Homo sapiens: one gene and its partner. The protein of the gene in region 2 interacts with the protein of the main gene of each other region in a biochemical or structural test. Each region holds a gene or a part of one and is shown on either strand. Other genes may lie near its edges.

What was found.
Region 1: the proteins of DCTN5 (region 2) and PMEPA1 form a complex in vitro, tested with the Homo sapiens proteins (one study listed by BioGRID).

Annotation. Positions count from the first base shown.
Region 1 is NC_000020.11:57,648,271-57,663,429, reverse strand, and holds the end of PMEPA1 (protein TMEPAI), read left to right. Parts: intron 1-3,732; coding exon 3,733-3,887; intron 3,888-10,343; coding exon 10,344-10,397; intron 10,398-10,831; coding exon 10,832-11,377; 3' UTR 11,378-15,034; downstream 15,035-15,159. UniProt on the Homo sapiens protein: Functions as a negative regulator of TGF-beta signaling and thereby probably plays a role in cell proliferation, differentiation, apoptosis, motility, extracellular matrix production and immunosuppression.
Region 2 is NC_000016.10:23,660,687-23,675,845, reverse strand, and holds part of DCTN5 (dynactin subunit 5), read right to left. Parts: intron 14,677-15,159; coding exon 14,565-14,676; intron 10,221-14,564; coding exon 10,118-10,220; intron 8,830-10,117; coding exon of another isoform or gene 8,822-8,829; exon of another isoform or gene 8,800-8,821; coding exon 8,702-8,799; 3' UTR 1-8,701. UniProt on the Homo sapiens protein: Part of the dynactin complex that activates the molecular motor dynein for ultra-processive transport along microtubules.

The DNA of each region.
Region 1 (15,159 bases), on a different chromosome or scaffold from region 2:
GCCCACCGTCCCCCCGCTGACACAGGGAGACTGCGATGGACTCAGAGAGGGCCCCCAAGAGCCAGGCTGGGACCCGGGCCCTCTGAGAGAGCCACTGTGCTTCCCTGCCACCACCCTGCTCCTCTCCAGGGTGCTCCTGAGCCGTAGTCTCGGCAACCCTTGCAAATCTCCATCTCCCTAAGCCTGGACCCAGGCCCTTGGCTCACCAAGTCTAGCCAGCAGTCAGTTGTAGTTTCTCTTTTCTAGAGAGTTTTTCTCTCTCCTCTCCCATGTGAATTTTCCTGGGCCAGTGACCCAATGGGAGTTGGTGGCCCAGGGACCAGGGTGACGCTCTTATGCGCTACTGAGCCCGGTGCTCATTTCTGGGAGCGTTTTTCTCACTCTGTGGATACAGACGTCCAAAAGTCAGATCCCCCTGCCCCTGGGGCCGAGCCTGGCGGGGCCAGGAGAGCCGTGAGGGTTTGTCCACACCCATTCAGTCTGCAGGGGCCTCCTCCATTGCCCCTGCATCCCACCGGCCCTGCAGCCCCAGCTACCGTCTCACTGCTGTCTGGGTCCTGCGGGCTGCCAGGGCCCGGGACAGGGACAAAAACAGCCACACACCTCCCTCCCTCCAGGGCTGATGTGGGCTGGGCCCCTGGAGACAGCTGGGGAAGGGGGAACTGGGGTGAAGAGTGCACAGGGTTGGGGGGCAGGGAATTGCAGGCCCCGGGGGTGGGGGGGCGTGGGTGTTACACAAAGCCAGCCCTGTGTGTACCCTGAATGCGGCTTTATCCTGAGTGCTAACAGACGGACCTGGGCCCTACAGAATCAGGCCAGGCTGCCCCGGCCCTGGACCTGCCTGTCTGGGGAGACAGGAGGTGTGGCCACAGCGACCTGGGTCTGAAGCCTGATCTCTCCTGGCCAGGAACATGCGGGTGTCCCACAGGCGGCCCAGGGCTTGGGGCCTGAGTTCCCAGCAGGCAGGGCCGAAGCCTTCTCGGGGCTTGGGAAAGCCCCACCAAGCCTAGTGGGAGGACGCGCCAGCTCTAGGGTCTTGGACTTCTCGAGGCAATCACTTTTCCCTCTGAGCCCGTGTCTCCTCACCCGTGAAATGGGGATGATAATAAAAACGCCCGTTCTTAGGTGTGCTCAGCCCACAGCATGACCGACTGGATTGGATCATTCTTTGTCATGGGGGACAGTCCTGTCGGTGCAGGACGGTTACCACAGCCCCTGGCCTCCACCCACTCCATGCCAGGAGTACCCCCCAGTTGTGACAACCAAAAATGGCTCCAGACATCGCCACATGTTCCCTGGGTGCAGACGTGGCCCCAGCTGAGAAACACTGGCTCATTAGCAGTGTAGACAATGGCGCGCTGAGCCCTGGGTGCAGATGCGGCCCCAGCTGAGAAACACGGGCTCAGTAGCAGTGTAGACAGTGGCACGCTGAGCCCTGGGTGCAGACGCGGCCCCAGCTGAGAAACACTGGCTCAGTAGCAGTGTAGACAATGGCGCGCTGAGGGTGGCACAGATGCATAAAGTGCCCGAGACGGGGAAGTTCTGGAAAACCTGTTGGGGAAGAAGGAGTGGCAGTGGACACAGGTGTGGGAGTGCTTCTGTGTGGAGAGGCGTCTGCCACTTCACAGACAGTGACATTCCCACCTAGGATGGGCTGCTTTCCTGCCTTGGGGAGAGCGAGGCTGGTGGCAGGAGATGGCTGGGCCCCCCGGGTTTGGAGTGTGCTTGCCTGGGCTGTCTGATGGCCCGAGCGCCTGGCATCGGCTCTGCACGGCCTGTTTTTTCTCCAGTTGCCACCTGACACCTGCCCACCCCGATCCCCCTCCCCCGGCTTTGGTTCCTCGGTCCTGGGAGGAGGAGGAACTGAGTCAGTGGCACTGGGCTTGAACTGGGGCCCCCAGGGAGCCTGGCTAATTGCTTGTTAGTGCCAGGGAGCCCTGGGGAGTCCTCCTTGCCCCCATGCCAGCCGGGGTCTGGGGAGTCACATTCCTGCACACCTTGGGCAGGGTGTCCTGGGCAGGGCGAAGCTGGAGGAGCTTTGGCCCCGGACGCTGCCGGCTGGTGCCCACTCTGCCGTGTCAACTCCAAGGGACCCGGCGTCTTGCCCATTGCTGGGGGCTCTGCTGGCACCGTGCTCGGCCAGCTGCCGAGGCCGCTTCGGCACAGACCCGCTTGAGTCAGCAGAAACTGCCCGGCTCAGGCAGGATCAAAATAACCTTCTTCCTATTCCAGCACTTGAGGGTTTTTCCGCCTTCTAGGGGAAAAACAAATCAAAAACCAAAAAAGAAAAAACAAAAAAACCCAACCTTAGAAAATGCGAATGGCAACATCCGCAGCCATCTGGAATGTGGGTTTTCTGAGGCCTTTTCACCAAGAGGAGGGTCCTGACACCCCCGTCCTGTTGAGCGTGGCGTGTGTTTGTGAGTCCTGGGATGGATGTGTGTGTGTGGGCACGTGTGGTGCGCTGTGTCTGTGTGTGTTTGTGTCTGTTGGGAAGTGTGTGTTGGGATGTTGACTTGGGTGTGGGACTGTTGAGGGGTGTGTGTTGGGGTGTTGATATGTGTGTAGGAGTGTTGGGTCGTGTGTTGGTGTTGACGTGTGTGTAGGAGTGTTGGAGTATGTAGTGTTGTTGACGTGTGTGTAGGAGTGTTGGGGTGTTGTGTGTGGAGGAGTGTTGGGGTGTTGTGTGTGTAGGAGTGTTAGGGGTACGTGTTGGGGTGTTATTTGTGTAGGAGTGTTGGGTCATGTGTTGGTGTTGATGTGTGTGTAGGAGTGTTGGAGTATGTAGTGTTGGGGTGTTGTGTGTGTAGGAGTGTTAGGGGTACGTGTTGGGGTGTTATTTGTGTAGGAGTGTTGGGTCATGTGTTGGTGTTGACGTGTGTGTAGGAGTGTTGGAGTATGTAGCGTTGTTGACGTGTGTGTAGGAGTGTTGGGGTGTTGTGTGTGTAGGAGTGTTGGGGTGTTTTGTGTGTAGGAGTGTTAGGGGTACGTGTTGGGGTGTTATTTGTGTAGGAGTGTTGGGTGTGTGTTGGTGTTGACGTGTACTTAGGAGCGTTGTGTGTGTAGGAGTGTTGGGGCATTTGTGTTGGTGTTGTGTGTGTAGGAGTGTTGGTGTGTTGACATATGTGTAGGAGTGTCAGGTGTGCATAGGTTTGTGTACACACGTTCACATGTAGCTCCTCTTTGTTTAATTCCACAAAGCTTCACTCCCAAACTCAGTGCCAACTTCCTCTCTCCGCACTCAGGGGTCCCCTTCTCCTCCCAACTGCTCCCTCCCTGGGCCCCTAAGAAGGGTCTGTGACCGTCTGCCCGAGCCTTTGCCCAGCGACAGGAGCCAGTGCGCAGGGCTCCCTTTCTGCCAGTCAGCTCACGCTGTGCATCTGCAGAACGGCTCCAGGAGGCTCTGAGAGCAGAGAGCAGGGCCTTCCTCCTGCCTGTCCCGTTACCTCCTTCCGGTCAGTCCCTACAGAGGGGGTGTCTGGGTCCCAGGACACCTTTGAGGTGCTCTCCCAGCCAGCAGTACCCCCTCCTCCGCCGTGAGAGCAGCTTCCCTGCACGTACCCCAGCCCCAGGCATCGCCTGTGACCTTGCCGGGAGAGTGGCGGGGGCTTTCCTGAGTCTGGGTTGCACTCTCGTCCCCCTAGGTGGGTGAAAAAGCTCAAAAGGGCTGAGCCCTGAGCACAGCGACCTGCAGGTGTCCAGGGTCTCACGTGTCCCTCTTTGTCTCCACAGCGGAGCTGGAGTTTGTTCAGATCATCATCATCGTGGTGGTGATGATGGTGATGGTGGTGGTGATCACGTGCCTGCTGAGCCACTACAAGCTGTCTGCACGGTCCTTCATCAGCCGGCACAGCCAGGGGCGGAGGAGAGAAGATGCCCTGTCCTCAGTAAGTGCCCCGCCATCCCATCTGTGGCCTGAGGGTGCGGCAGTGGGACGCCCCTTGTAAAAACTCAGACGGGATCCAATGGCAGCGTTTGCAGGAAACAGATTCAGGGCAGGAAGACAGGGGCTGGGGAGCCCACCTGACAGCAGCTTCCTCCCCTGAAATGGGAGGAAAGCACCCGCCAGGCGGGCCTCAGAGATGCTGGAGGAACGTGGGGAATGAAGAGCTGGGCTGGGAAGAGGCTTCGTGATCCACTCACGCACTCAGCTGACTCTCGAGCAGCCTCGGGTCGCAGGCTCTGTGCAGGGCCTGGGGAGAGGGCAGCACACAGGTCCTTGCTGTCATGGAGCTGACGTTCCAGGAGGGAGATGAGACGCCCAGTGGTGATAGCGCCATGCAGGAGATGCGACCACTGGGACCTGGGGGAGCCTCTGCGAGGAACCCTCGGCTAGGGAGGCAGGGCTGGGCTCACAAGCAGCGCAAGCTGACCCCCGTCTTGACCCACATCTCTCGAGGCTGAGTGGAGACAGACCTAGAGAGATGAGGCTGAAAGCAGGGAGGCACCTGGGGCAGGCAGCACAGGAAGGCATTCTGGGTCCACACAGAGGCCTGACACAACAGGATGGTGGAGACGAGGGGCCGGCATTTGGCTCTTACCCACCGGGGTAGTGGTGGGAAAGGTGCCTGCAGTCCTGCAGCCCTGACCCAGACGGAAGGGAGGTGGCGGCCCTGCCCTCGTGCCCGTGCTATGCTGACATCTGGTCATGTGGTCACAATGCCTTGGAGAGCCATAGAGGCAACAGGACACCAGGTCCCGGGGCCTAAGTTTAATCCCATCTCCACCAGTACTGGCCACGTGCCCTCAGACCTGTCCCTGATCTACAAAATGGGGCTTCAGATCCCCCATTTGTAAAATGGGCTGACAGTCACATCCACCTCCCCAGAGATTCAGGGCTTTAGCACAGAGCACGGGTCTGGTCATTACTGGCTATAAAAGCACTTCCATCCATCCATCCATCCACCTGACAGATCTCTACCCAGCACACACACGGGGTATGCAAAATTCCCCCTGCGTTTGGGAAGTGGCTGTGAGCCAGTCCCAGGGGGTGCTGCTGGTGAGTTGGATGGGCGCAGACAGGAGCAGGTGCACGGATGAAGGAAGCCGAGGGCCGTGGCCAGGAAGTTGGGGCGAGCTGCTCTTGAGGCCGTGCTGTGCAGGACCAGGTGAAGTGGGCGCGGGAGTGTGAGGAGGACAGAGCCCTGCAGGAGGGACCCCGCTCTCCATTACAGTCCTGGGTGTTGATCTCTCAGAGTTGTGAGCATTGGTGGGTGTTCTGGAAACCCCAAGAATTTCCCTTTCGAATCTCCACAAAGTCAGGGGCAAACAGGGCAGATCTGGGTCGGTGGGAACTTGCCCGCCTCTGACGGTGAACTCCCGGCTCCATGTCGGCCGCCTGAAGCCCGGCTGTTCGGTATCCTTCAGCAGGTGGACCAAAGGGCGGCACAGAGTTAATCTCTTAATGGCTTCCATCTCTGCACCCAGGATGTGTAACTCAACCACGTGGGGCAGGAAGCGGCTGTTTAAAGAGCAGGCTGGGAACTGTGGGGAGGAGGTGGCACGTGGCCAGCCCTGGGGCTGCGGCACGTCTCTGAGCCGGGGCTCACCAGGTGTGGGGAGGACTCACAGAACAGGCAGCACTGAGTGTGGCCTCCCCACTTCTGGGGACGCCTGGGGTTGGTGGTGGCGCCCAGAGTCCCTGGGCTGAGCCAAGTCAGCTGAGAAGCCTGTTGGCCACAGTCCCTAGCCGGAAGGCCTGTCCCTGGCAGGTCTGGACACCTCTGCTTGCATCAGGCCCCAGCCTCAGTGCGTCACCAGGTTGCCAGGGCAAGGAGCATCAGCCCTGGGACCTCTGATGGGAATGCCTGGCCCACAGACCCGGGGCCCACTGTGCGTCCCAGCACGCTGTCCGGAGGGCGTGCTGCAGACCTGCTGCTCTCAAGCCCCGACGTGTTTATTTGCTGTTGCTACCACTCCAGCAACAAGCACTGGTTACGTCTGCCCAGGGATGCCATCAGGGACTTCAGGGGTTCACCCCACTTTCCAGAGGAGAAACTGGGGATGAGAGAGGTGGAACATTTGCCGGAGGCCACACTGCTTGTCACTGCCGGTGTGAAGAGCCCACAGCCTATTCCGTCCTCCCTCAAGTGCTGGGGAGAGTGACGGTGCCTGGACATTCCAGAAGGCACCAGCCCTGGAGGGGCACTAACTCCAGGCTGGACTCACCTTGCCCCTCGGAGCCTCAGTGTGTGCATCTCCACAGTGGGTTGAAGCTAGGCCTGTGCGGCCCGTGGTCATGGGGAGGATGCAGTTAGTGGAGAGTGTACCGTACCCAGAGGCCGACTGCAGGGGCTTCACTGTTGTGGAGCAGGAGACGGCACCTGGGATCCTGCTGCCAGGAAGGGGTAGGATTCCGTCACACCTTCGGCCAATAGAAAGTCTCCTCCCACTGTCTACCCAGCCGCCTGCACAGCCGCCCGGGATGCCTGGCTGGGTAAACGTGGAGCCTCACTAGGCCTAAAGCAGAATGTGGCAGCTCCCCTGGGGACCCCCTGCCAGACAGGAGTCCCTGGGCCCCGCGGCCTTCCATAGAGATCCACATACAGCTCTTATCTGTCCCGGGCCCAGTCTACATCCCCCCAGCCCATCCATGCTCTGCCCCTGGCATGGCTATCCGACCATGGCCCCTTTTCAGGGTGACCCTGGGGGTCCCCTCTTGCCTGTATGGAGACAAGAGCTCGTGCCTCACCCACCTGCCTCACCATCTCAGGTAAGACCCTGAGCTCTGAGGTCTTTTCTCGGCCTTGTCACCTCCTTGTTGTGTGACACTGGGCAAGGATCTGCCCTCTGAGGGTGAGGCTCCAGTGCAGGCAAGCCCCTCGACCAGGGATGGCACTTCCACCCTGGCGCTGCTCCGAGGGTATTCGGGACATGATGCAGAACGTCACTGCAGTGACCGCCCAGCCACGGAGTGGCGCAGACTTCAGGTTTACCCAGAAAGGCAATCCCAGTCTTTGTGCCCAAGGCCTGCTCAGACTAGGAACTCAGGCCTTGGATGGGGTGACCCTTTGTCCTCTTTATCCCCCAATCAGTCCTCAGTGTGGGTCTCCTGCTCCCGAGAGAACCCAGCCCACCAAGGGCCCATTTCCCAGGGGCAGGGACAAGACTGTGGCCAGGCCAATGTGCGACAATCTGCCAGCAGCGGGAGCCAAAGACCTAGCGTCCACTCCCATGGCCTCAGGAGATACCGAATTCCCCCAGGCCCCTTGTGCTGGGCTGTGGGGGAATTCAGTATCTCCTGAGGACATGGGAGGTACCGAATTTTTTAGGAACATCTCTTTATTCTTTAGAAACATCTCTGAGTCCTCGAAGTTTGATAGAAGGCCATCCCGTCCCCTTGGATGTTCCTGGGGACTCCAGGGGAAGAATGGGCAGCTACGTTCTGGCCTCGTGGTGTTAAGACTCTGGAGGGGTCTGGGAGGAGCTGCCTGAGCGTCAGCTCACTGCGGCTGCCTGGTTTTGTCAATGAGGTCTTTTCTGAGTGTGAATGAAGTGTTTTCGAGTGCGTTTTGCCCATAGCTGCGCTTGGCTGTAGCAGCAGGGTTCAGTGGTATGACAGAGACCCGCCGGCCCACAAACCAGAAAATATTTTACTCTCTGGCTCTTTATGGAAACAGTTTTCAGACCCTTGGTCTAGAAGCATCTAAATGGGGAAGGCGCAGGTGGACTGGGTGCGCCCACTTCAAAGAAGAGGAGTCCACCCCGAGCCCTGGGAGTCTGGGAGTGGTTGGAGGCTGCTGGGAGCAGGGGGCTCGTCAGCAGTGGCTGTAGGATTGGAACCTGTCCTTGTCCTCCACCTGGGGTGACTGGCAGACATAGCCAGAGGCTGGGGAAGGTTCCAGACAATTCTGAAGCTGGGCCCACCTCCCCCGACTTCTCAAGCCACTTTGGAACCTAATTCCACAAAGATGACTTGCACGGGTCACCCAGCAACTTCCGCACTTAAGTAGCAACCTGAGCACTCCCTGACTGCATAGCACGCCGGCGCCTGGCACTGGGGAAACGGTAGCAGCTCCTGCAGGGCGAGTGAGACCCCTGAATAGGCCACCGGGGGCAGAGGGACAAAGGCTGTGGTGCAGGAGGGGACTGGAGGAGATGGGAGGAGGTGCCTGACCCGCCTGGGGGGCTAACGGAGAGCTCTGGGGTTAGCACACCTGGGCAGAGGCTTGAGGGGCCAGTCAAAGTTCTTCAGGAAAGGGAGGAAAGAGGGGCCATTGGTCCAGACCCAGGATGGGCTCAGATCCAAAGGCAAGACGTGAGAGTCTGTGTTCACTGGGCACCTTGCAGAACACACTGTATGGTGCATTGCAGGCGCTGTCATCAGCCCGCTATACAGATAGGAAAACCCGTTAAAGGAAACAGCTATACTACGGCCGTGGACATCTAGGGGGTATGGGCCTCGGTAAGGGGTTGGAACTTTCTCTCCTGGAGGCAGCGGGGGGCCCAGACGGTTTAAGCAGAGGAGTGGCAGGGTGTGGGGTGGGGGGCATGAGGGAGATGTTCCCACTTCTGTGAGGAGGAAGGGCCCTGGGGAAGGGCAAGAGTGGAGGAGACCCTGGGAGACCCCTCAAGGACCTCAAAGACCAGCGGCACTCGCAGCCTCTGGGAGATGGTGAGACACGCAGGCTCGCCAGCCCTCCTGCTACAGAATCTGCATTTTTGCAGGCTGCAGATGGACTGTCTGCACATGGAGGCCCTGGTTCCATAGGACTTTGCTGTCCACTAGGCACAGATGCTGGGGAGAGAGGTGGATAGAACTGTCTAATAGAAGGAGAAGTGAGAGGGGATCAAGGGTGGGTGGAACAAGGGTGGTGGGGAGAGGAGCTGTCAGGAATGATCCTGTGGATCTGGCTTTGCAACTTGAAGAATATCAGAGCCATTCGCTAAATCAGGAGACGAGGCAGTTAAGACCTCCTTAAGGGGTAGGAGCGGTCCTGACGGGACAGTTTTGAGGGGCCACAGAGCCTCCTAGTGGCCATATGGGAAATTACCACCCTCTGGCCGTTCCTACCCAGGCTGCAGGTGAGCGGTATCCTACCTGGGAACCCTCAAAAAACCTGCCCCAAGGGAACGTTTGAGGTGATGGACATACTCATTATCTTGATTGTGGTGAGAGGTTCTTGGTATAAATATATGCCCGAACCAAATTGTATGCTTTGAATATGTCCATTTATTTGCATATCAGTTATATTTCAATGAAGCTATAAAAGTAACAGACATCCCTTTCCCCGGGCCCAGGGCTCACCGTCATGGCATTTGGGGAAACTCAGAGGAACTGGTCCTGGCATGGGGTCTCATTTTCCTCAGAGCAGATGGCATAAGCTTCATGAAGTGGCAGCTGTGCCCCTGCACCCAGACCAGAGCTTGGCGCCACAGTGGAACCACACACCTCCTTTGCCAGAGGCTGAATCACTGTTTTATGGCAGAGCAGCCGCCTTGGGCACTTTCCTCAACTCTCCTGTTTTTCACCTGTGAACTGGGACATCAGTAATGATGGGCTCACTAGATCAAGGGAGAGAAAGACTGTAAAGAAATAAATGCATAGAAGCAATGATTAAGTTAGGACAGGTGCTGGAAAGGGAATCAACAGATGACAAGGTTCACGGGAGAGGCCCTTCAGATGCTGGTCTCCAAGGGTCTGCAGGGGACGCTGGAACTGAAAGTGGACAGCAGCGGGCCGTGCAGCCTGGCCTGCCGTGTAAAGGACCTGGGGCTCGGGCTGAGCTTGTTGAGGCCCCAGGGGGCTGGTCAGCATGGCTGGTGGGAGTGTGGAGGTGACACCCAGCACATTCACATGCTACCTGAGTGCCACGTGGGCTCCGGGTGGTTTTTACATTCAAATTCAGCAAGTGCTTGAGCAACTATGAGGCAAGTACTGTAATCTCAAGAACTGTAATTCAGGTACAGAAACTGCAGCGTTGAAATTAAGTAACTTGACGCAGGTCACACAGCCAGCAGGGGGCCCAGGCCCAGGGGAGTGGGGCCAGGGGTGAGGGGCTGAGGCCATGTTCAGCCTGGTGAGAAGCCACTGAGGCCCACGGGAAGCTACAGGCAGCTTTGAGAAGGGGGCCCCACAAGTGGGTGTATGTTTTGGAAAGTGTCAGGCTGGATTTTCAGGGGACAGCAGAGGGCACCTCAGGGATCAGTGAGGAGGTGATTGCGCTCACGTCCTGGAAAAGCGCCCAGGGCCAGGGGCTGGGGAAGCTGGTTCCGATGCAGAGAGGTGGGCGGGTTCAAGAGCTGATTCCAGGGTAAAGGCCTAAGAGTCGAATCTGGGTTGAGCCTTTGCTGTCCCTCCTGCCCACCCCACTGACCCTGCTTGTACGTTTCTTCCTGTGCAGGAAGGATGCCTGTGGCCCTCGGAGAGCACAGTGTCAGGCAACGGAATCCCAGAGGTGAGACCTCCCTCGGCCTCCCCTCCAACACCCCCATCCCACCCTGGGCTGCTCCCGCTGCGGCTGGAACAGTGTGGGCTGCTAAAGGCTCACCCCTCCGCCCTCCTCTGCAGTGCCCTTGCTGCTGGGATCCTCCTTGCCGGAGATCATCTGCTCCCTGCCCCTGAGGGAGCAGCCCAGCTCTCTGCTCTCTGCACACGGGAGCACGGACGCTGCCACTGTTTGGAGGAGGGCGGTGCAGCTCTGCAGTGCTGCCCCCCAGGCCAGGGCCCCCGCGGGATCAGGCTCTGGGCTCCCGCCCCCGCCAGCCCTGCTGCCCTCTCCCTTTCCCCAGAGAGCCAAGTCCCATGCAGCAGAACTCCAGTCTCAGGATCGCTTCTGGACAACCCACCTGAGACAGCCGCCCTCCCTCACTCCCGCTCTGCTTCCTCCAGCCGCAGGTCTACGCCCCGCCTCGGCCCACCGACCGCCTGGCCGTGCCGCCCTTCGCCCAGCGGGAGCGCTTCCACCGCTTCCAGCCCACCTATCCGTACCTGCAGCACGAGATCGACCTGCCACCCACCATCTCGCTGTCAGACGGGGAGGAGCCCCCACCCTACCAGGGCCCCTGCACCCTCCAGCTTCGGGACCCCGAGCAGCAGCTGGAACTGAACCGGGAGTCGGTGCGCGCACCCCCAAACAGAACCATCTTCGACAGTGACCTGATGGATAGTGCCAGGCTGGGCGGCCCCTGCCCCCCCAGCAGTAACTCGGGCATCAGCGCCACGTGCTACGGCAGCGGCGGGCGCATGGAGGGGCCGCCGCCCACCTACAGCGAGGTCATCGGCCACTACCCGGGGTCCTCCTTCCAGCACCAGCAGAGCAGTGGGCCGCCCTCCTTGCTGGAGGGGACCCGGCTCCACCACACACACATCGCGCCCCTAGAGAGCGCAGCCATCTGGAGCAAAGAGAAGGATAAACAGAAAGGACACCCTCTCTAGGGTCCCCAGGGGGGCCGGGCTGGGGCTGCGTAGGTGAAAAGGCAGAACACTCCGCGCTTCTTAGAAGAGGAGTGAGAGGAAGGCGGGGGGCGCAGCAACGCATCGTGTGGCCCTCCCCTCCCACCTCCCTGTGTATAAATATTTACATGTGATGTCTGGTCTGAATGCACAAGCTAAGAGAGCTTGCAAAAAAAAAAAGAAAAAAGAAAAAAAAAAACCACGTTTCTTTGTTGAGCTGTGTCTTGAAGGCAAAAGAAAAAAAATTTCTACAGTAGTCTTTCTTGTTTCTAGTTGAGCTGCGTGCGTGAATGCTTATTTTCTTTTGTTTATGATAATTTCACTTAACTTTAAAGACATATTTGCACAAAACCTTTGTTTAAAGATCTGCAATATTATATATATAAATATATATAAGATAAGAGAAACTGTATGTGCGAGGGCAGGAGTATTTTTGTATTAGAAGAGGCCTATTAAAAAAAAAAGTTGTTTTCTGAACTAGAAGAGGAAAAAAATGGCAATTTTTGAGTGCCAAGTCAGAAAGTGTGTATTACCTTGTAAAGAAAAAAATTACAAAGCAGGGGTTTAGAGTTATTTATATAAATGTTGAGATTTTGCACTATTTTTTAATATAAATATGTCAGTGCTTGCTTGATGGAAACTTCTCTTGTGTCTGTTGAGACTTTAAGGGAGAAATGTCGGAATTTCAGAGTCGCCTGACGGCAGAGGGTGAGCCCCCGTGGAGTCTGCAGAGAGGCCTTGGCCAGGAGCGGCGGGCTTTCCCGAGGGGCCACTGTCCCTGCAGAGTGGATGCTTCTGCCTAGTGACAGGTTATCACCACGTTATATATTCCCTACCGAAGGAGACACCTTTTCCCCCCTGACCCAGAACAGCCTTTAAATCACAAGCAAAATAGGAAAGTTAACCACGGAGGCACCGAGTTCCAGGTAGTGGTTTTGCCTTTCCCAAAAATGAAAATAAACTGTTACCGAAGGAATTAGTTTTTCCTCTTCTTTTTTCCAACTGTGAAGGTCCCCGTGGGGTGGAGCATGGTGCCCCTCACAAGCCGCAGCGGCTGGTGCCCGGGCTACCAGGGACATGCCAGAGGGCTCGATGACTTGTCTCTGCAGGGCGCTTTGGTGGTTGTTCAGCTGGCTAAAGGTTCACCGGTGAAGGCAGGTGCGGTAACTGCCGCACTGGACCCTAGGAAGCCCCAGGTATTCGCAATCTGACCTCCTCCTGTCTGTTTCCCTTCACGGATCAATTCTCACTTAAGAGGCCAATAAACAACCCAACATGAAAAGGTGACAAGCCTGGGTTTCTCCCAGGATAGGTGAAAGGGTTAAAATGAGTAAAGCAGTTGAGCAAACACCAACCCGAGCTTCGGGCGCAGAATTCTTCACCTTCTCTTCCCCTTTCCATCTCCTTTCCCCGCGGAAACAACGCTTCCCTTCTGGTGTGTCTGTTGATCTGTGTTTTCATTTACATCTCTCTTAGACTCCGCTCTTGTTCTCCAGGTTTTCACCAGATAGATTTGGGGTTGGCGGGACCTGCTGGTGACGTGCAGGTGAAGGACAGGAAGGGGCATGTGAGCGTAAATAGAGGTGACCAGAGGAGAGCATGAGGGGTGGGGCTTTGGGACCCACCGGGGCCAGTGGCTGGAGCTTGACGTCTTTCCTCCCCATGGGGGTGGGAGGGCCCCCAGCTGGAAGAGCAGACTCCCAGCTGCTACCCCCTCCCTTCCCATGGGAGTGGCTTTCCATTTTGGGCAGAATGCTGACTAGTAGACTAACATAAAAGATATAAAAGGCAATAACTATTGTTTGTGAGCAACTTTTTTATAACTTCCAAAACAAAAACCTGAGCACAGTTTTGAAGTTCTAGCCACTCGAGCTCATGCATGTGAAACGTGTGCTTTACGAAGGTGGCAGCTGACAGACGTGGGCTCTGCATGCCGCCAGCCTAGTAGAAAGTTCTCGTTCATTGGCAACAGCAGAACCTGCCTCTCCGTGAAGTCGTCAGCCTAAAATTTGTTTCTCTCTTGAAGAGGATTCTTTGAAAAGGTCCTGCAGAGAAATCAGTACAGGTTATCCCGAAAGGTACAAGGACGCACTTGTAAAGATGATTAAAACGTATCTTTCCTTTATGTGACGCGTCTCTAGTGCCTTACTGAAGAAGCAGTGACACTCCCGTCGCTCGGTGAGGACGTTCCCGGACAGTGCCTCACTCACCTGGGACTGGTATCCCCTCCCAGGGTCCACCAAGGGCTCCTGCTTTTCAGACACCCCATCATCCTCGCGCGTCCTCACCCTGTCTCTACCAGGGAGGTGCCTAGCTTGGTGAGGTTACTCCTGCTCCTCCAACCTTTTTTTGCCAAGGTTTGTACACGACTCCCATCTAGGCTGAAAACCTAGAAGTGGACCTTGTGTGTGTGCATGGTGTCAGCCCAAAGCCAGGCTGAGACAGTCCTCATATCCTCTTGAGCCAAACTGTTTGGGTCTCGTTGCTTCATGGTATGGTCTGGATTTGTGGGAATGGCTTTGCGTGAGAAAGGGGAGGAGAGTGGTTGCTGCCCTCAGCCGGCTTGAGGACAGAGCCTGTCCCTCTCATGACAACTCAGTGTTGAAGCCCAGTGTCCTCAGCTTCATGTCCAGTGGATGGCAGAAGTTCATGGGGTAGTGGCCTCTCAAAGGCTGGGCGCATCCCAAGACAGCCAGCAGGTTGTCTCTGGAAACGACCAGAGTTAAGCTCTCGGCTTCTCTGCTGAGGGTGCACCCTTTCCTCTAGATGGTAGTTGTCACGTTATCTTTGAAAACTCTTGGACTGCTCCTGAGGAGGCCCTCTTTTCCAGTAGGAAGTTAGATGGGGGTTCTCAGAAGTGGCTGATTGGAAGGGGACAAGCTTCGTTTCAGGGGTCTGCCGTTCCATCCTGGTTCAGAGAAGGCCGAGCGTGGCTTTCTCTAGCCTTGTCACTGTCTCCCTGCCTGTCAATCACCACCTTTCCTCCAGAGGAGGAAAATTATCTCCCCTGCAAAGCCCGGTTCTACACAGATTTCACAAATTGTGCTAAGAACCGTCCGTGTTCTCAGAAAGCCCAGTGTTTTTGCAAAGAATGAAAAGGGACCCCATATGTAGCAAAAATCAGGGCTGGGGGAGAGCCGGGTTCATTCCCTGTCCTCATTGGTCGTCCCTATGAATTGTACGTTTCAGAGAAATTTTTTTTCCTATGTGCAACACGAAGCTTCCAGAACCATAAAATATCCCGTCGATAAGGAAAGAAAATGTCGTTGTTGTTGTTTTTCTGGAAACTGCTTGAAATCTTGCTGTACTATAGAGCTCAGAAGGACACAGCCCGTCCTCCCCTGCCTGCCTGATTCCATGGCTGTTGTGCTGATTCCAATGCTTTCACGTTGGTTCCTGGCGTGGGAACTGCTCTCCTTTGCAGCCCCATTTCCCAAGCTCTGTTCAAGTTAAACTTATGTAAGCTTTCCGTGGCATGCGGGGCGCGCACCCACGTCCCCGCTGCGTAAGACTCTGTATTTGGATGCCAATCCACAGGCCTGAAGAAACTGCTTGTTGTGTATCAGTAATCATTAGTGGCAATGATGACATTCTGAAAAGCTGCAATACTTATACAATAAATTTTACAATTCTTTGGAATGAGGCTTTTTCACTTCTTTGGCCAAATGTAGCTCTTCTCACTTCCCACCCCTTTCTACAATAACCCCGGGTGCATTCAAGGGAGGCGAAGCGATCCCTCGGAGCTGCTGGGCAACCTTGAACAG
Region 2 (15,159 bases):
ATCCATCTCATGAGCATGGATGACATTTGTGGGAGATCTTCATGGAAAGCATAGAAGCTAGACCCACTCTGTTGTCAGTCTGAACTCAAAGCACTCACAGCACATGGAAAGGCAGCACTGGGAATTTTCCTTCAGCAAGAGGAGGCTTCCAGGGATCAAGCCTCCCCAGGTGCCAGGCTTTAATTATTTTCTCCAATATTACAAAAACAGTCGTGCCCTGTTCAGCAATCATAACATTGCATTTTTTCAACCATCTCTTACTCTCAGCTAGGCCTTTCCTCTGGAAGGGTTGTATGTAAGAGGCACAAAAGCATTTTTGTAGATAAACTTTTTTTTTTTTTTTTTTGAGATATGGTCTGGCTCTGTTGCCCAGGCTAGAGTGCGGTGGCACGATTTTGGCTCACTGCAACCTCCGCCTCCTGGGCTCAAGCCATCCTCCTACCTCAGCCTCCTAAGTAGCTGGAACCAAAGGCACATGCCATCATGTCCAGCTAATTTTTGCATTTTTTGTAGACACAGGATTTCACCATGTTGCCAGGCTGGTCTTGAACTCCTGAACTCAAGCAATCTGCCCACCTCGGCCTCCCAAAGTGCTGGGATCATATGCATCCATCACTGCGCCTGGCCAACATTTTTTTTTTTAACTATCATCCTAGAGTTCAAGTAGATAAACGTTTTTATGCAACTTAACCAGAAAGACATTCAGAAATTGGTAATTATGTGTGGAGGGTTGAATTATGTCCCCACAAAAATTCATGCTGAAGCCCTAACCATCTACCTGTACCTCAAAATGTGAGTATATTTGAAGATAGGCCCTGAAGAGGTAACTAAGTTAAAATGGGATTGTTAGGATGGGCCCTAATCCAACCTGAGTGGTATCCTTATTAAAAGAGAAGATTAGGACACAGACACCCAGACAGAGGGACCATACAAGGACACAGTAAGAAGGCAGCCATCTGCAAGCCAAGCAGAGAGGCCTCAGAAGAATCTAAAGCTGTCGACACCTTGTCCTGGACTTTCAGCCTCCAGAACTGCAGGAAAATAAGTTTCTATTGTGTAAGTCACTCAGTTTGTGGTACTTTGTTATGGTATCCTTAGCAAACTAATAAAGGATGAAACCCTGAATTTTTAAAAATTTCAAAATGTGTTTACATAATCTTCTACCCCTTTTGTCCTGATTATTCAATGAGCAGACTAGAAAAGCCTAATACCTTTCTGGGGACAGCTACGTTTTAATAATCCACCTACCTTACTAAGCTGTGTGTGCTGGGAGAAAAGTGAGGGAAGTAGAGTCAGGCTGTCAGTCCACTGTTGCAAGCTGCAACTAATCCCAAAAGCTGAATGCAACAAGTCAACAGCAGTGAGAGAAGCCCCAGAGAAGGTTTGAGTCTGGTCTGTCAAAAGCAGGAGGAGAGGTCATAGTCCTTGCGATGTGCCCTTCCCCAGCTTGGAGCGTTTGGCAAATATTAGAAGTTAGGAATGCAATTAGCCTCTGTATTAGAGACAAAGAGCCTATCAGCAGCTTGATCTTAGATGGTCCCATTAGAGAATAAGCCCTTTTCAGCCAGGTTCCAGGACGTTTTCATAGTTTAGCGCTCCACGGAGGGGGTCCTTAATCTCCAACGGCCCCAACGTCTGAGTCCTGGTCATTGAGCCTGTGCCTGCTTTCAGTTCAGCATAGCTCGTGTTGAGGCTAAAACAGCTCAAGGCAGACAGTAGCAGGTTTCAGCTTAGAGTCAGGGCCAGGCAATTAGGATCTGAGAATTTGAGATTCTCAACAAGCAGCTGCTTTTCTTCAGCAGCAGTGAAGGCATGCTGCATGGCCAGACAGCTGTGGTCCAAGTGACATGCAAGGCTGCCTTTTTATCTTGTTGGTCTTAGAGTCCAATTGACCCACTCAAAAAAAATGCATATTAGACTAGACAATCATCAGCCTCTAAGGGGAGACATTTGATTTTGACAAGGGTTCATTAGCAATTTAACTGTATTTTCATTTTCCAAACAGATTGCTTCTCTTTACATGTTGTCTCCCTCTTTCCCGAGGCTCCAGTAAGCACGAATCACAGCAAAAATAATCAGTTACAGCCTGTTCTGGTTCCAATATCCGAAGAATTTAAATTCCAACCTATCCACTAGTGGCAAAAAACTAGAAAGCTGTATCCCACTAACACCTTTCATATTTTATTTTTGAGTAGCTTTATTTGATTAGGGTGATCCCTCTAGCATTTATGAAATTAACAAGCATAAAACTTTTTTTTTAAGAGATGAGTAGCTGGGACTACAGGCGCACGCCACTGCGTCCAGCTAAGGTATGTTTTTTAAGCAATGAAATCAACCAGTAAAAACAAGTTCAAATATTTTTCATTCACACACTCAAGGCCTGCTGAGCATCCACTGCATGTGTTTTACTTGTTCCATTAGAAAGGTTTATTAAAAAATGGCGGGGCACAGTGGCTCATGACTGTAATCCCAGCACTTAGGGAGGCCAAGATCGCTTGAGCCCAGGAGTTCAAGACTAGTCTGGGCAACATGGTAAAACCCTGTCTCTATTTAAAAAATAAACAAATACAAGCAAGTTTTTTTTTAAAAAATGATATATTAAAGAAAATCCTCCTAATTCTCTTATGTCTTTTCATAGCTGTTTCCATGTTCTCATATTCCCATCCTTGTCAACATGGAATTTTTGTTGTTGTTGTTGTGGTTTTTTTTTTTTTTTTTGAGACGGAGTCTCGCTCTGTCGCCCAGGCTGGAGTGCAGTGGCACAATTACAGCTCACTGCAAGCTCCGCCCCCTGGGTTCGCGCCATTCTCCTGCCTCAGCCTCCCAAGTAGCTGGGAATACAGGCACCCGCCACCATGCCTGGCTAATTTTTTTGTATTTTTAGTAGAGATGGGGTTTCACTGTGTTAGCCAGGATGGTCTTGATCTCCTGACCTCGTGATCTGCCCACCTCGGCCTCCCGAAGTGATGGGATTACAGGCTTGAGCCACTGCGCCTGGCCAAACATGGAATTTGTTTTATACAGTTGCAATTATGGTCCATTAATACAATCTATTTGTATGTTATCAGTAACAGTAATACTAACAGTGAACCCTTATTAAGCATTTACTATGTGCCAGGCACAAGGCTAAGAGTTTTACAGAGATGATCTCATTTACCTTGGGTTACTTACCCAACCAAGGTTTATAGCCAGCAGGTGGCAAAGCTTGAATTCCAACCCAACTCTGCTGACTCCCAACTACACCCACCTGCACACTTGCCTCTTGGGCCTTGTTTGTCTGGCAAGTCCTAAATCCCAGACTCATTTGTTCACTTGCTTGCTTCCTCCCTCCCTCCCTACCAAAACACAGTATGATCTGTCGGTTAAACTCAATAGACTAAAAACTCCGGGTTCAAATGCTAGCTCCTCCATCACTAGCTGTATGACCTTGGGAAAGTACTTAATCTCTCTGTGCCTCAATTTCCATGTTTATAAAATGGGATAAAGTGCCCATTATAGTGCCCATTTCCTAGGATTCTATCCAGGAGATGATGTGCCTATTTCCTAAGGTTCTTATAATGAGATTCTGCAAGGACAGCACTCCAAATAGTACAGGCACATGGTTTTGACAGTTGTTTCTGTTATTATTGAAATAAAAAGAACCTATACCTGTTCCCAGGAAGCTCAGAGTCTCTCACAGGCCTTTTCAGTTCCTGGGGCTCTCATATTTCCTCATTCTCCCAGACTCCTCTGACCCTACTCTTCCTCAGGTTCTTACTGCTCCTGTGGGAAATCAGAAAGAGCAGCCAGCAGACAACACCAACTGAGATGAATGCAGCTGAAATGGCACAGGTCAGTATGGCCAAGAAACACCATGGGCTAATGTTCAGACCCATGGTATGAAAGCCAGAGTGGGTGTGAATTTCACTCCCATGTCTCTTATCTTGGATGGTTTTCATCTGCATGACCCATTTGCCCAATGCCCAATGGATGTGAAGATACAGAAAAGTCCAGGTACTGTTTTCAGGGAAGTAAGATGTCCTGTGCCAACTCTTCTCACTTCAGGGTCCAAGTCAGAGTGCACAAGGAAAGCAGGTGGGGCTGGCCCACCAGCAAAAGCTTCAGGAGAGCAAGGGATTGGCTGACTGGGCTGCAAGGGTAGTGTTCAAAGCCAGCTGCCTTGGAGGCCAAGATAGTGGAGGAGCTGCATAAAACATGGATTTTGCAGCCAAGTAAGAGCTGGCCTTGATTCCAGCTCAGCCATTTATTAGATGTGTGGCATTGGGCAAATTTACTTAACCTCTCTGAATATCAGTTTCCTCTGCTGTAAAACAGGCTGTGAAACTCTCACTTTTTTGACAGTTGGGAGGATTAAATGTTTGCACCCCATAGATACAAAACAAGGAAGGGTGATTTCTCCATCTCTTGTTTGTGGCGGACTGATTATAAAGGGCAAGATGTTTTAAATTTTATTTTAAATTTTAAAAATATGTAAGAATGCTATGCCTTATACTCTAAGGGGTTTTGCTCAAGGTGTATCACTTCCTAATAAAAGTGCCTAATAAACTGCCGTTTATTGAGTGCTCACCCTGAGCCAGTACTTATGCTTTACATGTATAAATGCATTTCAATCATCATAATACCCTATCCAACTTCCCCATTTTATGGATGAGAAACCTGAGGTTCCACGAAGTAAGATAACTTGCTCAAAGTCACAAGGCTAGCCAATGGCAGGCTGGGATTTGATCAGCCTGACTCTAGCACTCACACTCCTCACCACTATGATGGCTCTCAAAATGGGCCCCTCAGACCCTCTCTGTATTTTGACTCTTTGGCTTTCTCACTCACTAAGCTGTGAGATCCCTATGAGAAAGAACTGGCTCCATCTTAGTCTCCACTGTATCCCCAGGACCTAGGAAGTGCTTGGCACCTAGTAGTGGCTTGGAAAGCACTTGTTAAATGAATAAATGAGTGATGGTGTCTCTCTTCTCTGTGCAGCATATGGTGAGGGGCCCACCTTCTTACCCCTAAATGGAAGCAAGCACATATTCTACTAAAAGCACAAGCCCATTGCTGGGGGGCTCTAGAAGTGTTTCAGTTATCATGTACTTATGGGAACTGTAGAAGTTGGCGAGACATTTTGCTGAGACCAGTTCTGAAAAAACCAGGCCTTCGGACACGCTGTCCCAACACTGCCAGTATCATTTCAGGGGACTTGCAGCTCCATGGAAGCTAACCCCCAGGAGACCAGCCAGCTGGATTTGACTACCTATAGTCACCATCCAGGTTGTCAGATGCCAATTTTTTTTCAGGAGAACCGCTGAGGCTAGCCAGAATATGGCTGGGCAGCACCCTCTAGGCTCTCACTGGATAGAACAGGATACAGAGAAAGGCCTCCCTAGCCACCAAGACCTCTTCCTTATAGCTGAGAAACTTCCAAGGATATGTTAACTATGAACAATGTTTGTCTGATTAATTTCAAGTCTGCCAGATGTATCAGTGACTAAGAAAGGAACTGTGGCCTCAGATCCTGAGTGAAATGGTTCATGCAGAAGTGACTAATACAGAAGCCACCACCCCAACCCCAAATAACCACAAGGGCTCTGTGCAGCCATGTAAAACAGAATCAGTCAACAGGAGGCTCACAAGACAATCATTCACCTTTGTTCCCTGCAGCAGGTATCCTGCAATCTGAGACTTATCTTGAGCTGGGGTAAGGTCTGAGGCATGCTGGCAGGGTGTGTGAGGGTTGGGGGTGAGGGTGGTCACATCCAGGCAATCATTCTATTAAGGATGTGCTAGATGACCCACAGACTCAGGCCTGACTCCTCAGGAGCTCACAGTTAGTAGGGGTTCAGACAAGAACACAGGTACATAACTAAAACTCTATTGATAAGGGCGCCTCGGTAAGGTGCTATGGGAACCATAAGGATGCAGTTCCATGGCCCAGTCAGCTCATCTGGGGAAAAATAATAAAACAAAAAGGAAGCAGTTCCAGACAGAAGACCATCTCCAAATGGTTCTTTATTGAACACCCACTTTGGCTAGGCAATATCCTCCCCCTGCCCTCTAATCCAGGCTCAGGTACCCCCAGTGGAGTATCCTCAGAAGGCAACTCCCAAGACCAGGAGTAATGAGAGATTGGGCAGAGGGTAAGGGACAGCAGGGAGACGGAGGAAAATGAAGACACCAGGGAAAGAGGAGAGGCCTGAACTGGACAGCTGATGCTTTGTCCTGCCCAGCACCCATTCGTCCCTTCTTCAGGTAATATCATCTGCCACCACAACCACCAGCACCAACTCTCAGTCTCTGTGGGTACATGCCAGGCCTGTCCATTTGGTGTATTCCATCTTCCTGGCCACAATGATGACTTGAGGCTGGATACCTTCCTCGTCTGGACCAATGAGAACCAAATCCAGCAGTTCTGTCAGCAAAGGGGAGCTCTTTTTATCAATAACTGGTGCTGTGGGGCCACACTGTGAAGCCCAAGAATAAAGCCAACTCAAATGAAAGCAGAGCTGAGAGCCAAAGAGACAGATCCCTGTTTGGAGTCCTGGGATGCAGCCTGAAGCCCAATCTAGCCCATCCTTTTCAGCTACGTGAGCCATTAAATTCCCTCTGCCCCAAGTGAACTGGAAAGAGTCCCAACCAAGGTCCTTCCCATCTGGTTGTTCTTCTGGAAGTATTTTGAGGACAAGGAGATTTTCATCTCCAGGGTTATAAAAGTAATTGTGTGGTGACAGGCTGTTCCTAGGTCCCTGGGGTGAGAGCCACCATGGAGACAGAGTCCAGCTCGCCTTTCCTAGGATACACACTCACGACTGTCAACACATCTTCGAATACATCAGCACATAATTATAAACTCCTATTGTTTGTAGTAGCTATTGTTTTTGTCTTCCCATCACCTTGTTTTGGATGAAGAAAAGGTCATGACCCAGACTGGATTAATCATGTGGCCAAACATGCATGGCCACAGTGACTGATCCAAGAGGACATGGAACTCACAACAAACCATTGAGAACTTTGGGAGTTTCCAAATTCGAACTGGAAGGGAAGAAACCTTTCATTCAGAGCCCCCAAGCTAGGAGGATGCAGGTCTGGAGCTATCAGCTGTCATGGCTCCAAATGCACGGCGAAGGCTCATGTGCAGCAGGAGGAAAGGAAGCCAACAAAGAGGCCTGGTTGAGTCTGCTTGTTGTCTCCCAATGGCCATTCTTCCCCCACTCCTTTTTACTAGCAGAATCTCCTTCCTCAGAGTTTTGGCTGCCCAAGTAGAAACTAAATTTACAGCCTCCTTTGTTGCTAACTGTGGCCACATGGCAAGACAGTAGGAACCTGGGTGCCTGATGACATCATGGACCAGCCCCTTGCCTGGCCTGGACCAGCTGACTATCACTGCACTGTTATGGGAGAGAGAAATAAACTTCCATCTTGTCGAAGCTATGTATTTTGGTGGTTTTATGTATAAACATTTTAAAAATAACAAACTAGAAAGGAGTTCTAGATGGAACTAGTGGCAATGATTACATACAGCTGTTTTGTTTTGCAAACCCCACAACTGGATATTAAGTCAGGATAGCTCCTGCTAAATTCTAACCTCAAGGCTGAACTGTTCTGCCCTATTCACTTACAGATCAGAGCATTAGGCAAGGACAACCTTCTTAGCCCCTCACTTCTGAATCTTCCTTCTAAGCTAAGAGGTCAGAGCAGAACGAGGAAATGTTGTGCTATTTGGCCAGAAGGAGATGGTAAGAACAGCCCTAGTAACTTCATTTACTCCTGAGGCTCTGTGCCCACAAACTGATTCTAAGAGCCCTTCCTGTATATATGCGAATTAGCTCTAAGTACAGACATTTTGGTGTGAATTGTGGAGTTTATGGCAAATACAGGGTAGGCTGAATGGTTCTAGGCCAGGAAGCAAGAGTTCACAAATGCGGTGTCTTCAATGAAATAAGGTAAGTACCTTGAAGCAAGGAGTAACCACCTGACTAATGCATCCACATGAGAGACTCAAATCTAACACTTGGCAAAATTACAATCTGGGATACTGAGGTCCCCACTTTTAGTGAAAGCCAAAGGCCCTAGGTCAAAATGCTAAAAAGTCTTTTACTAACTATCCTAGGACAGCTAAGGTCATTTTGGGAAGAAGAGAGAAACACTATTCACCCCTCCCTTCAAGTTTTAATAGACAACAGGAATCTGGGCTCTGAAAAGTCACAAACACCTTTCCCAAGATGATGAGCAACTGCAACAACTGGCCAAATGTGTTAGCAGCAGAAAAGCTGGGCATTACCTGTGTGAGAGGCGCTCAGCATGGGCAGTGAATGGCCGTGAGCAGCGCACCAGCTACATAGCCTCCACACCGGAAGGGTGCTGCTGCTCTGCAGGTCCGTTTCAGGCGGGATCCAGCCATCCACAGGACCAAGGGGCTGGAGTGTTGGGAACAGATGATTCTGTGTTCCACAGATAATGGTACAAAGTGACTGTTCATAGATAAGGTGTAAGCACAGCATTTGAAGACAGCTCCTCCAGATGGTCTGTCTGTTAGTGAATTCTTAAGCACTTAGAGCCTTGAAGATTGAGAAATTCTAAAGAAATTTTTTAAAAGGAGGAGGGTGGTAGATGTCAAAGACACAAAAGCTCTTTGTAGGTGCTGACTGGCTCACTTTGTCCCCAGGTTCATCTTAGAGCTCAAGCAGATTCAAGACATGAGGCAGAGATGCTAGACTTGCGTCAGGGGCAAAAACTTCTGGTAGTAGCTCTTGGTGACGTCAATCATCAGCTCCTGAGTGCACTCCGGGAGCTCCCCTGAGAAGAGTCCTGGGGAAAGAAAGACCCAGCTCTAAGGAGCTTGAAGAAGTTACAAGAAGTTAAGATATTTCTCTGGCAATATCCTTCTCACCTCAATCAGATGCATGTCTGACAATCACTTAAATAATCGCTGAGGCTGTTCTGGTCCAGTGCTTGCTAAGAACAGCTAAACTTTTTCACAGCAGGACCCCAATATGGAGAAATTACTAAACAAAAGTCTCTCCTTCCTCCTCTGCAAAAGCAGAGATGCATGACACGGTAGAATGGCCAAATGCCTCCCCGAAGAATCTGAGTGATGATTTTGTTCATCTTAGAAACTCAGATTCAATGATCTGAGAGATGAGATTTATTTTTTAATTGGAAAAACAATTAAACCACTCAGTGGTAGGTATCATATACTGTCAAATCTCTCTGTTCATATTATTTTCCATCTGTGAATTTATGACGTGCCTCTGTATATGCTACATGATTTCAGCTGTGTAAAACAACATGGAGAAGAAGATACTGTCTTGGGGTAGGGCTAAGGGAATGTGAGGTTTTCTCCTTCCTTCTGCTTTTCAGTGTTTTCCAAGTTTTCTGAGAGAAGTACGTATCACTTTTGTTTCCTCAAGCTTTATAATTTGGAACTCCGGGCTCCTGATGGGCTTTACTTGTGAGCATTCTATCAGCCAAGGTCCAGAGATAATGTATTAATATTTGCCCCTCTCAGGTATCCCCAGGGTATTGCTGGTCTTAGACCATGGTTTATGCTAACTTTTCAGTCTGGGAATTCCTGGGCCATGTGGAATGTACAAATTAAACCCATGACCAATGTGAGGGTAAGCCCAGTACTAAAATTCTCTAGACAGACTTTTTCTACCCAGAGTCCAGGCCAGGCAAGAAATGCTTTCTTGTACATTCCCTGTGTTGGCAGCAGATTTGTTTTACATCGACTTTTCCTTGAGAGGGAATCCTTTAAGAGTATTTGAGGATCTCTCTGCCATGTGTGGATCCAAGGCTTTATTTCCATCCCGACATGAGTATCACCCCTCAAATCACTCTATTATGAAGACAGCATTAACCCGTGCAATCTCACAGCTTGGGCTTAGTTTCCTCTTTGTGTTTGGCCCTTCATAATTTCCTTATTTTCTGGTGAACCCAATTATGCATTTAAACAGATGCTTGTTATATGTTAGGTAGCATTTCTAGGTACTTTGTACAGGTGAATTTCTAAGTTAGCTCTATCAACATATTGCCAGAGATAGGAATCGTAAGCATTACTTTTGCGATGGAAAATACAACTGAGTTTTAGGAAGTTAAAATAAAATTAATCAACAGCCAAGGTTACCTGGGCAGCCTGAGAAGACAGTGAATGGTGGAACCACAGTTTCTGGAGGTAATACTGTGTTGTCAAGAATTTTGCAGCAGTCTTTCAACACACATCGGCGCCCCTGAAATTAAAATCTTGTTAATAGGAAATGGATCAGTCTACTGTGTGAAAGGCTCCTTTCTATTTTCCCCATTCATGATACCATGTAATAGCCAGGGACGGTGACAAGAGGGTTGGTTGCAACTTCCTGCTTCAGGTGGTACCTGACGAGAAGGAGGCAGCAAGGTTGTGAGAGTGTGTGTTTGTGTACATTTCGGGGGGAAGGCTGTATGCTAGAGGCAGGACAAACTGTCTCAGACATTACAGACTGAATTTCAGTCTTCCATGAGCTCTGTTGAATTTTCCCTTTGATTTAGTGGACATTTGTGCTTTTGCTTGTCCAGCATCCATTCCCCTTTCTTCTGGTAACAGAACCTGTATTTTCCTCGGTAACCCTCCCATCCCCATCTCATCCATGTGCTTCACCCCCCAGCCCACACACCAAACCCCAAGCCTGGAAACAATAACAGGTCAGCATATGACCCCAATTAGTCTGATGGACCCCAACCTCAGGGCTTTTGCTGGGACTACTGGGGAAAGCAGCACTTCCCACTGGGGTTTCCAGAGGATAGGCTGGAAGACTGGAATAGGCATCTTATTTCCATGAAGGAAGAACCTGCCTGGGAGTGAACCTCCCAGAGGAAAGCAGCACAGAGATGGAGACTAATTCTTACAACATGGGCTGAATGCCTGGAGCCATTTGGCCGTGACATTAAGATCTACTCCTGTACTCTTGGTTTATATTCACCACCCATTCCACTCCACATCCACCAGCTTAAGGTTGGTTGGTTGGTTTGCTCTTTTGTCAATTCAAACTGGAAAAACCCTGAAAAATTCATTTGGATATGAAGCTATTAGTTCATTTGTTCTCCCACTGGTGAGTGATAGTCATGTAGATGTTTGAACCTCATCCCTGACTTTAACCACTGTCACCACTTTTCAATTCTGCCATGATCCACGGCATTCAGAGAGCAAGAAATAAGGTCTGAGAGACTCATCTGTTTCATGGGGCTTCTGTGTACAGTTTACAGCTGTATCTTAGACTCCTTGCTGAGGAAATGAAAGTTTTGATCATTCTGACTGCATTTACATCAGGGCCTGTTAGTTCACTGGTATCCTGGCTAGACAATCAGAAAATATACCTGACTGAGAATGTGGAAATCTTTACAAATACCAGGACAATGCTAACCAGTCCAGACCTCAGATTTTAGCAAAGAACATGATTGATTTGCTTGTGTTTAAATTTTTCCCCATTATTAAACACTTAAATCATATGTTTTTCTAGGAAAAGGTAGATTGCTAAATGAACTTCTTATGAAAGCATGTGAATTTCCTAAGTGGCTCTGAATTTCCCAAGTGGCTGATCTCTCTCCAGCTAGGTGGATAACAGCTATGAGAATACTCAGCAACATCTTTAGCTCAAAAGCACATTATGACTATAGTTCTTCGTTCTTCCTTGTAAAGTTATCTTCCGTGGGTTACCTGCTAGTGGCAATTTCAAAAATAGGGCAACTATCTTCCCTGGTGACCTCAAATTAACATAAACCCTAAGAATTCCTGTCATGACTAAGCTCCTACTAACTCAGACTAAGTTCATGAGGCACTGAGTAAAAGGACACCCAATGTGCTACATAAGGCATGATATAGTCCCATGGAGGGATCCACAGACAAAGGGCCCTGGAAAAGAAGACTAGCTGATGGGATATTTTCACTGTGTATACCAGCCACCATGCAGCCTGAAGGCACCTGCTCTGTCCACTGGTTGGCCATTTTGCCCACTTAGAGAAATAATACTTAACTGGGTTTCAGAAGCTGTCTGGGTAGACTGATCAATCAAATTAAACATTTAAAATGTAGGTATTTCTTAGGCATGAATGTACTGGTAATAGCTGAGGAGGTAAAAGCTGAAACTTCTTTTTTTTTTGGTGGCGGGGGACAGAGTCTCACTCTGTTGCCCAGGCTGGAGTGCAGTGGCGCGATCTCGGCTCACTGCAACCTCCACCTCCTGGGTTCAAGCGATTCTCCTGTTTCAGCCTCCCAAGTAGCTGGGATTACAGGCATGTGCTACCATGCCCAGTTAATTTTTTTGTATTTTTAGTAGAGACGGGGTTTCACCATGTTGGCCAGGCTGGTCTTAAACTCCTGGCCTCAAGTGATCCTCCTGCCTCGGCCTCCCAAAGTGCTGGGATTACAGGCATGAGCCACTGCGCCTGGCCTGAAACTACTTCTTTATTCTTCCCTAGAGAGCTTTCCAAGGAGTTAACAACTGCAGCCGTGCTGCTAATACTACAGCTACCTATATATCCTGTGCAAGTAAGTTAGCATCTTGGAGCCTTGGTTTCCTCATCTATGAAACAGGATGGAAAACCAAATCTGCAGGGAGGTTGTCAAGAATAGAGAGAATAAATGTAAAACTCATAGTACAGTAACAGTGCCTATAAATATTGCTTGTTAAGCTTTTCCTTCAGGCATCTGAGCAATTCTGATGAACACCTACATCTTCACATATCCAAACGGAAATTAAGACTATCACATGGGATGTTATAGGAAGGAGCTATGTGTCATGGGGACGGCTGGACTAAAAGAGTTACTTCCAGTGCTGAGATTCTAGAATTCTAAAAGAATCTCTCCTGAGATCGAGTATTTGTCAAGGCTCAGCGAGTACCGCCAATATGGAACAATGACTATATCATGAAGTGATGTATTAAAAAGTGGCATAAAAACAAGAGCACCTGACAATAGGATTAGAATTTCCTAAGCACTGGGAATAGAATTTGGATTCAACCTTTCAGACATTTCGCTCTGAGGATAAACGACAGGGTTATATGACTAGGCTACTGGGGTGATATCTTCACTTTGCTAAGGAAAATATCAGAAACCCCCAGCTGGAAGGCTAGCTTTTGTCAAGCAATTAGGGTGAGGGGAGAGATGAACTTTACTAACTTTCCCCTTGTCCCAAAGACTTTCTGTCCACCTTTGCTGTACCCTCATAGCTCCTGGAATGTGAACTGTTTGGTTTCTGCAAGTTTTTTGATATTTCAGGGTCTGAGTCTTATCCAGGGCAGAGAGCTGGCTCCATATTAACGGGAATGGTCATTAAAGAAACAGAGTCTTGGCTTTTCCTAGAATCTAGTCTGGAGTACAAATCTAAAATGCAGAAAACACTTTCCCTAAACATGGTTCTCATAAATCCCAACTGAAATCAAGCTCATCATCTAAGAAATCACAGGAAATCCAACCTTGTTAAGCCTTGGTTGGGTTAAATCAACCTATTCCTAGGCTCCAATGGACCAGGGTCCTACAGATTCTGCTGAGCAAGGGGCCCGCTTGCACCCTGAATTACATGTAAATGCCCTTTGATGACTTGAACCCTTCCTTACGCATGTGAATCTCTTTCCTGAAATGCCTGTCTTCCCCCAGTTTCAACTCACCCTTCAGATTTCCTTACTCCCATTAGACTGTAAGCTCCGTGAAGTAAGGCAATAAGTAGGCCATATAGCAGCATGGCTAATAATCATATTGCCTGGGTTTAAATCCCAGGTCTACTGCTTTCTAGCCCTATCAAATCCCTTAACTTTTGGGTTTTTTTTTTTTTTAAGAGAAAGGGTCTTGCTTTGTTGCCCAGGCTGGTCTTGAACTCCTGGGCTCAAGGGATCCTCCTGCCTTGGCCTCGCAAAGTGCTGGGATTATAGGCTACAGTCACCACACCTGGCCCCAAATCCCTTAATATTTAAGGTCCTCAGTCTTCTCATCTGCAAATAGGGATAACACCTAACACATCTGAATGGTTGTAAGGATTAAATGAAATCATCAAAGGAAAGAGTTTAACATCATATAGAGGAGACTTGATAAACGCTTGCCCGTATTAATGTCTAGAAAATATTCCAAATCTTTTTATTTATTTATTTATTTATTTATTTATTTATTTATAAGACAGTGTCTCGTTTTGTTGCCCAGACTGGAAAGCAGTGGTGCAATCTTGGCTCATTGCAACCTCCGCCTCCTGGGTTCAAGTGATTTTCCTGCCTCAGCCTCCCGAGTAGCTGGGACTACAGGCATGCGCCACCATGCCCAGCTAATTTTTGTATTTTTGTAGAGACAGGGTTTTGCCATGTTGGCCAGACTGGTCTCAAACTCCTGACCTCAAGTGATCTGCCCACTTCAACCTCCCAAAAAGCTGGGATTACAGGCATGAGCCACCGCACCCAGCTGAAAAAATTCCATATCTGTCAAGAAAAATCCAACTCTGGGAAGACTGGAAACCACTGCTACCCTGCTTAGTCACAGAAACAGGGTCCCACCGAAGTGAGGGATGGGAGCTGAAGGGAAAGTGAAGCTGCTTTGCCAGCCAAGTCATCATACTCACAATCACACAGTTCTTCCCAACATGAACATAGGAACCAATCTGTGCTGCGTTGACCACACAATCTTCCTCAATAAAGACATGGTCTCCAATATGTAAAGGAAAGAATGCAACACTAGAAGAGGAAAAGAAGATGAACACAGAAAGGTCAAGATGATGTACTTTGGGTCAAGGTTTATAGAACTACAGATCATAATTTGAACTTTATCATCTTAGCAAGACTGTTCCCAGCAAGGAAAGAAACCTCAGGCTAGAAAAATTATACAATATTGAAGAAAATGAATATGATTACTAGTTCAAAATTGCAATAGTACACCAAAGAAATATGAAAGGAAAAACCAAGGCAGGAGGGGCAAGATCTTCAAAGCTAAAAGAGCAGGTACCAAATAAAAATCAATGAACGTTTGTTCATTCCCACTTCCTTTGAAAATGCTCACAGATCACATTTTTAGTAACCTGCCCTATAATGTTCCAGGGGATTGACAGTAGGCTCATGAGTTATAATTTCCACATTCAGCATTCTAAAAATTTATTCATTCACAGACTTCAGTGAGTGACTACTATGTGCCAGACTCAATGCTAGAAATTAGGGCTATAA